2 separate regions of the Homo sapiens genome follow, and region 2 is linked to region 1. Evidence: fine-mapped expression QTL. Tissue or cell type: testis. Region 1 holds a variant in brackets; the other region holds the start of a gene. All regions are shown on one strand. Distances are from middle to middle.

Evidence for each region. PIP is the estimated chance that this variant, and not a neighbour inherited with it, causes the effect.
Region 2: ABHD8 starts here. The variant in region 1 is fine-mapped to the expression of ABHD8 in testis (GTEx, PIP above 0.99).

The regions. Positions count from the first base shown.
Region 1 is chr19:17,327,622-17,332,734 of GRCh38, reverse strand. It overlaps ANO8 (anoctamin 8), which reads left to right. Exons shown (of 18, transcript NM_020959.3): 6 at 1,324-1,440; 7 at 1,520-1,647; 8 at 1,746-1,907; 9 at 2,231-2,383; 10 at 2,484-2,610; 11 at 2,721-2,776; 12 at 2,904-2,978; 13 at 3,752-4,573; 14 at 4,855-5,046. Among named protein-coding and RNA genes, the nearest start is that of ANO8, 4.7 kb to the left of the region's middle. RefSeq lists enhancers at 2,742-3,269, 3,270-3,797, 3,798-4,325, 4,326-4,854, 4,855-5,113 and silencers at 3,775-3,934, 4,404-4,573. The variant G/A (reference allele first, on the strand shown) is at 2,056.
Region 2 is chr19:17,300,330-17,305,433 of GRCh38, reverse strand. It overlaps ABHD8 (abhydrolase domain containing 8), which reads left to right and starts at 2,009. Exons shown (of 5, transcript NM_024527.5): 1 at 2,009-2,192; 2 at 3,810-4,578. The coding sequence starts at 3,818. It also overlaps a transcript of MRPL34 not described here. RefSeq lists silencers at 1,887-2,436, 2,820-3,114 and enhancers at 3,472-3,972, 3,973-4,473.

The DNA of each region.
Region 1 (5,113 bases):
GAGAGGACAGCTTATCAGGACAGGAGGTCAGGGCTTATGTCCAACCAGTTAGGGGTTGGCAAAGGGTTGGGAACCAATGAGCTGAGGGGGCGAGGCTTTGGCCAAAGGGTGGGGCTTATTTCTGGGAGGTGGGTCCAGGAGAGGCCCTTTTCTGGGTTTGGGATAAAGTGGAGGCAGGAACCATGGACAGCACTCCACTTACAGAGTGGTGCGGCTCTGGGCGTTGGATTCCCCTCCAGGAAACTAGGCACCCAAGTTCACCTTCCGACAGCAAGTTTTTACCATTCCTCAGACGTTCGGGTCCACAAACTGAGCTTTATTTAAAGCAGGGGAACAGGCGCAGTGGCTCCCAGTACTTTGGGAGGTCCAGGCGGTAGCATCACTTGAGCCCAGGAGTTCGAGGTTGCAGTGAGCCATGGTAGCGCCACTGCATTCTGTCCAGCCTGGGTGACAGAGCGAGACCCTGTCTCAAACAAATAAATAAATAAAGTAAAAAATAAGGCCGGGCGCGGTGGCTGACGCCTGTAATCTCAGCACTTTGGGAGGCTGAGGCGGGCGTATCACGAGGTCAGGAGATCGAGACCATCCTGGCCAACATGGTGAAACCCCCATCTCTACTAAAAATACAAAAATTAGCCAAGTGTGGTTGGCGCGCGCCTGTAGTCCCAGCTACTCGGGAGGCTGAGGCAGGAGAATCGCTTGAACCCGGGAGGCAGAGGTTGCAGTGAGCTGAGATCGCACTACTGCACTCCAGCCTGGTGACACAGCTAGACCCCGTCTAAAAAAAAAAAAAAAAAAAAAAAGCCGGGCGCGGTGGCTCACACCTGTAATCTCAGCACTTTGAGAGGCCGAGGCAGGTGGATCACTTGAGGTCAGGAGTTTGAGACCAGCCTGGCCAACATGGCGAAACCCCGTCTCTACTAAAATACAAAAATTAGCTGGGCGTGGTGGTGGGCGCCTATAATCCCAGCTACTCCGGAGGCTGAGGCACGATAATCGCTTGAAGGTTGCGGTGAGCGGAGATCACGCCACTGCACTCCAGCCTGGGCGACAGAGTGAGACTGTCTCAAAAAAAAAAAAAAACATGGTTCCTCACCAGAACCCCACTCTCCCAGTTCCTTTACATTCTCCCCGCCTGCCCCTGCACCTACAATTTCTGAAGGAGAATCAGATCTTCTATCCGTCTAGAACTTCTCCCCTGGAAAGAGCTCTAGAGGTTTAAGAGCAGGCAAAAAGCTGTGACTTGGGTTTCAGACAAAGAGGGGCTAGCCAGGCTAGGCACAGGTGGAGGGGCGGGGATCACCTGTGCTCCTCCCTCCACAGTCCCGGAGCTGGCAGCACGTGGGATCATCCAGCAGGTGTTCCCTGTCCACGAGCAGCGTATTCTGAACCGCCTCATGAAGTCATGGGTGCAGGCCGTGTGTGAAAACCAGCCTCTAGGTGCTGCCTGGGCTGGGGGGTGGGAGGGAGTCCCAGCAGACAGGCAGGGGGTGACTGAGACCCACTTGTCCCCTGGCAGATGACATCTGTGATTACTTTGGTGTGAAAATTGCCATGTACTTCGCCTGGCTGGGCTTCTACACGTCGGCTATGGTATACCCAGCTGTCTTCGGGTCTGTCCTGTACACATTCACAGAGGCTGATCAGGTACTGGGCAGGGACCCTGCAAGGTCTGGGGGATCCAGAGGCGCCCTCCTTTCTGGACTGGCACAAACAATGACTCAACTCTTCTCTGCCACTCACAGACAAGCCGGGATGTTTCCTGCGTGGTCTTTGCCCTCTTCAACGTGATCTGGTCGACGCTGTTCCTAGAGGAATGGAAGCGGAGAGGGGCTGAGCTGGCATATAAGTGGGGGACGCTGGACTCACCTGGGGAAGCCGTGGAGGAGCCACGCCCCCAGTTCAGGGTCAGTTGGGGGCTGAGTCCAGGGTCATGGAGACAGGACAAAGGTAAATGGTGGGGGGCACTGCAGGAGCAAAGGCAGAGAGGTGTGAAACAGGATTGTTTCATCAAAGAGGGTATGCCAAACCGAGGCGGGCTCTGTGTGCTCCCCA[G/A]GGGGAGAGGTGGAAGTTGGATTTGAGGGACTGGGAACAGTGCCCTAGGTGGGTGACCTGAGAGGGTCACCTCCGCATGATGGAGGGAAATTGAGTTCTGAGGATAGGGAGGGGTGCAGAAGGCAGAGGTGGCCCCTCTGAGCTCATGCTGGGCCCGGTCTTTGCCCACCATCAGGGCGTGCGACGTATCAGCCCCATCACGCGGGCCGAGGAGTTCTACTACCCGCCCTGGAAGCGGCTGCTCTTCCAGCTGCTTGTGAGCCTCCCCCTGTGCCTGGCGTGCCTCGTCTGTGTCTTCTTGCTCATGCTTGGCTGCTTCCAGCTGCAGGTGACCCCCCATACCCTCACCCGCCCTGTCCTTGGTACCTAGCTCCACCTTGGGCTGAGCCCTGCAGCTGGGATGAGCCCTGAACCCCCTTCTCCCGCAGGAGCTGGTGCTGAGCGTGAAGGGGTTGCCCCGTCTCGCCCGATTCCTGCCTAAGGTCATGCTGGCCCTGCTTGTCAGTGTGAGTGCCGAGGGCTACAAGAAGCTAGCCATCTGGCTCAATGACATGGGTACGACCTGCCAGGGGGTCTCTGGGAGGAAGGTCTCCACTGCCCCTTGGGATCCCTGCCACCCTTGGGGGGACCGCGGCTGCCCCCTCACTCCCCCCCTTGGCCCCTAGAAAATTACCGGCTGGAGAGCGCCTATGAGAAGCACCTCATCATCAAAGTTGTCCTGGTGAGTCACCACCATCGGACAGGCAGGGGGACAACGGGGAAGCTGTGCCGTCTGTATGGGGCACAAGGAAGGCTCCAAGGAGTCGGGTGGGGGTGCAGGATGACCACCGCCTGCCTCCTTCCTGCAGTTCCAGTTTGTCAACTCGTACCTGAGCCTCTTCTACATCGGTTTCTACCTCAAGGACATGGAGCGCTTGAAAGAGGTGAGACCCCCGCCCCAGCGGCAGTCCCCCCTGCCCCCATGGCGGCCAGCGAGGGGCCAGACCCGGCACAAGGGGTCCAAGGGCTCTCCAGCCCCTCCCTCCCCTCCTCCATCCTTCTCTCCTGTCTGTCCGTCCGTTGTCCGTCGTCTGTGCGTCCTCTCTCTGCCTGTCGTCCCCCCATCTGTCCGTCCATCTGTCCGTCGGTCCCTTCACAGCTCCTGCTCGTCCTGTCCCTGTCCCAGAGCCTCGAGCGGCAGCTGCAGGCGGTGCTGGTCCCGCTCGCGGCCCTGCGGTTCCGCCTGCTCCTCCTCTCCCTCCGGGGCCTCCTGCTCGCGGCCCGGGCCAAAGTACGGGCAGGTGGCGAGCCCGTGGGTCCTCGCCGGGGTGGGCAGCGTGGCTGTGCTGGGGGCCTGGCGCGCCGAGCTGAGGGCGCATGCGCGGAGGGAATCTGGGGTCGGGGGCGGCCAGCAAGCAGGTGCAGGCGGCTGGGGGCGCACGCGGCCCAGTGCACCGACAGAGCCCGCGGTGGGGTGGAGACGCGCTGGGCCTGCCCGTGAGGTGGGCGAGGAGCGCTGCGCGTGCCAGGCTGTATTTTGTGGCTGAGCGCTGGGGGCCTCGCGTCGAGGCGCGTCCAAAGCAGCGGAGTTAGGAACCGGATTCGGCGTGTGTCTGGGCACGGTGCTCCGGCGGGGCGCCCAGGGAGGGTGAGTCCCCCGATCCCGGCGCCCCGCTTGCCCCCCACGCGCCTCTCTCCTTCCCCTTCCTGCCCCCAGATGCTGGCCACGCTGCTGATCACCCGCCAGTTCCTCCAGAACGTGCGCGAGGTCCTGCAGCCGCACCTGTACCGGCGCCTGGGCCGCGGCGAGCTGGGCCTGCGGGCCGTCTGGGAGCTGGCCCGAGCCCTGCTTGGCCTCCTGAGCCTCCGGCGCCCTGCGCCCCGCCGCCTCGAACCCCAGGCGGATGAGGGCGGGGGCGGCGGCAGCGGGGGCGGGGGCCGCAGGTGCCTCAGCGGGGGCTGCGGGGCGCCGGAGGAGGAGGAGGAGGCGGCGCTGGTGGAGCGGCGGCGGGCGGGGGAAGGCGGGGAGGAGGGGGACGGGCCTCCAGGGGGCAAGGAGGAGGACGAGGACGACGAGGAGGAGGAGGACGAGGAGGAAGAGGAGGACGAGGAGGAGGGCGAGGAAGGGGGCCTCCTGGACTGCGGGCTCCGGCTGAAGAAGGTCAGCTTCGCTGAGCGCGGCGCGGGGCGGCGTCGGCCCGGCCCAAGCCCGGAGGCCCTCCTGGAGGAAGGGAGCCCCACTATGGTGGAGAAGGGGCTGGAGCCGGGAGTGTTCACCCTGGCCGAGGAGGACGACGAGGCGGAGGGGGCTCCCGGCAGCCCTGAACGGGAGCCCCCGGCCATCTTGTTCCGCCGGGCCGGGGGCGAGGGCCGAGACCAGGGGCCCGACGGGGGCCCGGACCCGGAACCCGGCTCCAACAGCGATTCGACCCGTAGGCAGAGACGGCAGAACCGGTCGTCTTGGATTGACCCGCCGGAGGAGGAACACTCGCCCCAGCTCACCCAGGCAGAGCTGGAGAGCTGTATGAAGAAGTACGAGGTGAGGAGGGGGCGGGGCCTCGCAGGGGGCGGGGCCTCGCCGGGGACGGGACACACCGTCCGAGGGTGAAGGCCGTGGGGGTGGGAGTGGTGATAACAGGGCCATTGATGTTGGGATGCTGCAGGAGAGGAAGGCCTAGCCAGATACAGGAAGCCTCTGGGCTGGCTGAGGATGGGGACAGGCCCTGGGTCCACATGGGATAATCTGAGGGAGGCGGGCTCAATGGGAGAAAGATTGTCCCAGGGAAGAGGCTTCCAGGTCTGAGGCCCGCCCACTCGCAGGACACGTTCCAGGACTACCAGGAGATGTTCGTGCAGTTCGGCTACGTTGTGCTCTTCTCGTCCGCCTTCCCCCTGGCGGCGCTGTGCGCCCTGGTCAACAACCTCATTGAGATCCGCAGCGACGCCTTCAAGCTGTGCACCGGGCTGCAGCGGCCCTTCGGCCAGCGCGTGGAAAGCATCGGCCAGTGGCAGGTGGGGGGAAGCCAAGAGATCCGAGCTGAGGCCCAGAGGGAGCCCAGGTGCAGCTGGGAGGAGCCTG
Region 2 (5,104 bases), 27 kb after region 1:
CTCTTGGCAGGAAGCCGAGGAGGCCTGAGTTCAAGCTCGCTGCGTGTCCTTGGGGTGGTCCCTGCGCCACTCTGGGCTTTCTCAATCTGTAAACTCAGGGATTGCAAGCTTGTCTTTGGCAATCTTGCCCCCATTTTGGGCCCTAGAAGAATTCTCCTCTGTTGTTAGAACCAAAAAAAAAAAAAAAAAAAAGGAAGAAAAATTTTCTGATACTCAGATCTGAACCCCTCCCCTACTCACACACTATCCTTGGCTCCCCATTTCCCCAGGTAAAACCTGCTCAGCCCTTCCATCAGGCATGCAAAACCCTCTACACACACCATCTTACATTTCAGCCACACTCTCCTCTCTGCCTGGTGTTCCCCTATCCGCCCTTTAAAAATCCTTTCCTCTCCAAGGGCTGAGTGAGGTGTGGCTCATGCCTGTAATTCCAGCATTTTGGGAGGCTGAGGAGGGAGGATCCCTTGGGGCCAGGAGTTTGAGACCAGCCTGGGGACATGGTAGCAACCACCTATAGTCTCAAGTACTTGAAGGTGAGGTGGGAGGATTCCCTGAACCCAGGAGATCCAGGCTGTAGTGAGCAATGATAGCGCCAATGCACTGCAGCCTGGGCAACGGAGTGAGATCCTTTCTCAAAAAAAAAAGGAGTCGTCTTCTCTCAACCGCTGTCCATTCTTCTGGCCCGACTGCTTTCCCTTGACTCTCCCCCAAGTTCAAGGGCTCCTCAAGGGCCAGGGGCCTGGGGCTGTATCCCTACAAGTGCCAGCTTGGGGTTCATGCAGAGAGGTGTTTGCTAAATGAATAAACTGTATAGTCTCCCAGAAGTGCCCTTAGTGGGCAAGAGTAGGTGTCTGGACGGAATCCAGCTCTGGCAGCAAATTCCAGGGGATGTGAGTGGCCAAGCAGCAAGGAGCATTTAACCCCTCGTCCTCCGAAGCCCATCCTACCTGTAGCATCGTTTAGCAAAACATCACCACTATAATAATGCCCATAATATATGGAGCATTTGTTATATGCACGACACTATGATGAGTGCTTTACCTGCGTAGCAAACTTATGAGAGGATTAATTTCATAGAGAAATAAACGGAGGCTCAGGAAAGTGAAGTAACTTGCCCGAGGTCACACATCAGCAAAGGGCAGAGGCTGGATTTGAGACCTGAGCTCTCCTGAGGGCCTACCATGGCCCCGCCGGTACCACAGAGCTGGGATGCCTGCCTCTTGCTATCAGCCCTTCTCAGAACCATGGCAGCCATGGGTTAAATCGGCTGATTATGAAATTCAAACTCTCTAATTACCCACAGCTCCAAGACTTTCCTTGAAAGCTTTAGAGAAGCCCGTCACGATGGCTCACGCCAGTGATCTCAGCCCTTTGGGAGGCCGTAGACGAGAGGATTGCTTGATGCCCAGAGTTCGAGACCAGTCTGGGCAAGATAGCGAGACCTCGTCCCTACCAAAAGAAAAGGGGGGGGCGTAGGGGGGAGGTTAGCAAATAATGGTTCCCAGGGTTTGGAATCACACAGCCTTGGGTTCAAGTCCCAGCTTTGCTCCTTGCTTGATTTATGCTCTTGTGCCCTTTATGAGCCTCAGTTTCCCCACCGGAGATTGGAAAAAGATCTTGGAGTCTCTGCTTCTAGAATGGAAAGGTCAATACAGAGAGAAGAGTATGGGGGCCTCGTTTGGAGAGGAACAGGGCAATTGGGAGGCAGGGGCTGGGGGGCAAGGGCTTGGGAGACCCATTTGCAGAGAGAGGGCCCCGGCCGCACACTCCCAGGCGTCCCGCAGACCCTAGACTGCAACCCCCTTCTCCGCCTTGAGCCAGGCCCCATCCCTCCCCCAACCTCGGTGAACCCCCAAAAGGGGCGGGGCCGTTGCTCCCAGAGCCCGCCTCCACTACGGAATTGCCGCCTCTCATTGGGCTCCTAACTAGGCCAGGTCAGTCCGCAGCTGCGATAGGCCGAAGTGCCCGCCCGTCGGCACGTGGCTCCGCCTACTCGGGGGAGGAACTTAAAGGGCCGGCTGTTTCGGCGGCCGCGGGATGCCCCTGCGCTGACCGCCAGGGGCAGGTGCCCGCCCGCGTAGACGCACCCGGCCTGACCCCGCGCCACCATGTAAACGGCGCCAGCAGGCGGACGCTGGCTTCTCCGCCTGGGACCCCTCCGCCCCGACCCGGGCCCCGCGGCCCTCGATGAGGTGAGCGGGGAACGGGCCCCAAAAGGAGAGATCGAAGCCCCGGGGCCTCCACTTCGGAGGAGTGGTGTCCACCAACCCCGCGTTTGGGCTCGTAGGAAGCCACGGAGCCCCAGTGGGCTCGACCCCGCTGCAGGGATGACGAACACCTGGAAGGCGGGGGCCGGGGGCGGGGAAGCGGGGCTGGGGTGGCGCCTGTGCGTTGCCCTCCACAATCCGGGATTAGGGCCCCACTCGAGGTGGGGGGCATGGCCTGCTTCCCCTCCAGTATGTCTGGGGCCACTGCGGCTCAGTCTCGGGCGTGCGTTACCTTAGCGGCGCCCAACCTGGGGTAGGGGGCAGGCAGGCAGCTGGTCCCATCTCCAGGCCCTAGACACCTCGACAATGGGGGTGCACTGCTCGGGTATCCCCCCCTTAGGTTATGTAACCGCCTGTGGTTGCCATGGACACGGGGGCGGGGGTGGCCCAAGGAGTGGGATGGAGGCTTGGAGGCCCCCAGCCAGGGCCCTGCCTCTCCCATCCTCTTCGCCACCTCTGGGGACTTGTATAGCAGATCCCCAGAATCCAGGGTGCCAAGGAGGAAGTTCAGAGTCTAGCTTCCTCTCAGAGTGTCTGGGCCTCAGCTTGGCCCTCTATGAAACAGACCCCGGCTCACCCCGGTCTAGGGGAGCTGAGCAAGGCTTTCTGTGGCTCAGTCCCCATCCCCCTCTCCTAGGGCCTCACCTTTCAGGAGTCAAATTCAGAGCCAGGAGCCTCACTGGGGGCTCACCAAAGATTTGCATATTTTAGATGCCTTAGGAGGCCCTGGGGATATGTGAGTTAGTGAGTGCATACCTGGATGAGTTAGTGAGTTAGTGTATACCTGAATGAATGAGTTAGTGTATACCTGAATGGATGAGTTAGTGTATACCTGAATGAATGAGTTAGGAGGCCATAAATGGTATAAACTCCAGCTGGGGGGAGGGGGTGTCTTCCGGCTGGTCCACATTTGCCACAATGTCCCCTTCTCCAGGAACATCCCCACACAAGACGCCACCACCTTCCCTGTGGACACCCTGTGGGGTAAGCCATAGCCAAGTCTTTCTCTCTGAGGATAGACTAGGGTGACCCAGGAGGGTAACTACCACAAAGGCACTGCTCAGACAAAACATGTCAGTGCACGGTGGCTCACACCTATAATCCCAGCACTTTGGGAGGCCGAAGCAGGAGGAAAATTTGAGGTCAGGAGTTCAAGACCAGCCTGGCCAACATGGTGAAACCCCATCTCTACAAAAAATACAAAAATTAGCTAGACATGGTGGCACCTGCCTATAATCCCAGCTACTCAGGAGGCTGAGGCAAGAGAATCGCTTGAACCCAGGAGGGGGAGGTTGCAGTAAGCCGAAATCCGGCCACTGCCCTCCAGCCTGGATGACAAAGCGAGACTGTCTCAAAAACACACACACACACACACACACACACACACACAAACAAAAAAATCTCAGTGCCGTGGCTCACTTGATCTGGCGCTCCCCAAACTGGAGTCTAAAACAGTTCTCCCAAGGCTCAGGGAGTGCCTGCTGCACGGTGCAGGGTTCTCATTGAGACAGCACCTGAACTGGCTGCTGTCCTCACTCACAGGACACACCATGCTGACCGGGGTGACCGACGGTATCTTCTGTTGCCTGCTGGGCACGCCCCCCAACGCCGTGGGGCCACTGGAGAGCGTCGAGTCCAGCGATGGCTACACCTTTGTAGAGGTCAAGCCCGGCCGCGTGCTGCGGGTGAAGCATGCAGGACCCGCCCCAGCCGCTGCCCCACCTCCACCATCATCCGCATCCTCGGATGCAGCCCAGGGGGACCTCTCCGGCTTGGTCCGCTGTCAGCGCCGGATCACCGTGTACCGCAATGGGCGGTTGCTGGTGGAAAACCTGGGCCGAGCCCCTCGAGCCGACCTCCTACACGGGCAGAATGGCTCTGGGGAGCCGCCGGCCGCCCTGGAGGTGGAGCTGGCAGATCCGGCGGGCAGCGATGGCCGCTTGGCCCCCGGCAGCGCAGGCAGCGGCAGCGGCAGTGGCAGTGGTGGGCGGCGGCGGCGAGCCAGGCGCCCCAAGAGGACCATCCATATTGACTGTGAGAAGCGCATCACTAGCTGCAAAGGCGCCCAGGCCGACGTGGTGCTCTTTTTCATCCATGGTGTCGGCGGTTCCCTGGCCATCTGGAAGGAGCAGCTGGACTTCTTTGTGCGCCTAGGCTATGAGGTGGTGGCTCCTGACCTGGCCGGCCACGGGGCCAGCTCTGCGCCCCAGGTGGCCGCAGCCTACACCTTCTATGCGCTGGCTGAGGACATGCGAGCAATCTTCAAGCGCTATGCCAAGAAGCGAAATGTGCTCATTGGCCATTCCTACGGGTAAGTGAACCCTGGCATGTGGGGTGGGGGTGAGGGATGGGGTCAGCAGGGACTACAGTCACAAAATACTGAGTTTTTGGCTGAGCCCCGTGGCTCACGCCTGTAATCCCAGCACTTTGGGAGGCCGAGGCAGGCGGATCACCTGAGGTTGGGAGTTCGGGAACAGTCTGGCCAAGGTGGTGAAACCCCGTCTCTACCAAAAATACAAAAATTAGCCAGACGTGGTGGCACGCGCCTGTAGTCCCAGCTACTCGGGAGGCTGAGGCAGAGGAATCACTTGAACCGAGGAGGTGGAGGTTGCAGTGAGCCGAGATTGTGTCACTGCACTCCAGCCTGGGCGACAGAGGGAGACTCTGAGATGCCACTGACACCTGTAATCCCAGTGCTTTCGGGGGCCAAGGCGGGAGGATATCTTGAGGCAAGGAGTTTGAGACCAGCCTGGGCAACATAGGGAGAACCCCCTAGCTCTACAAAAAGTACAAACATTAGCTAGGTGAGGAGGTGCACGCATATAGTTCCACCTACT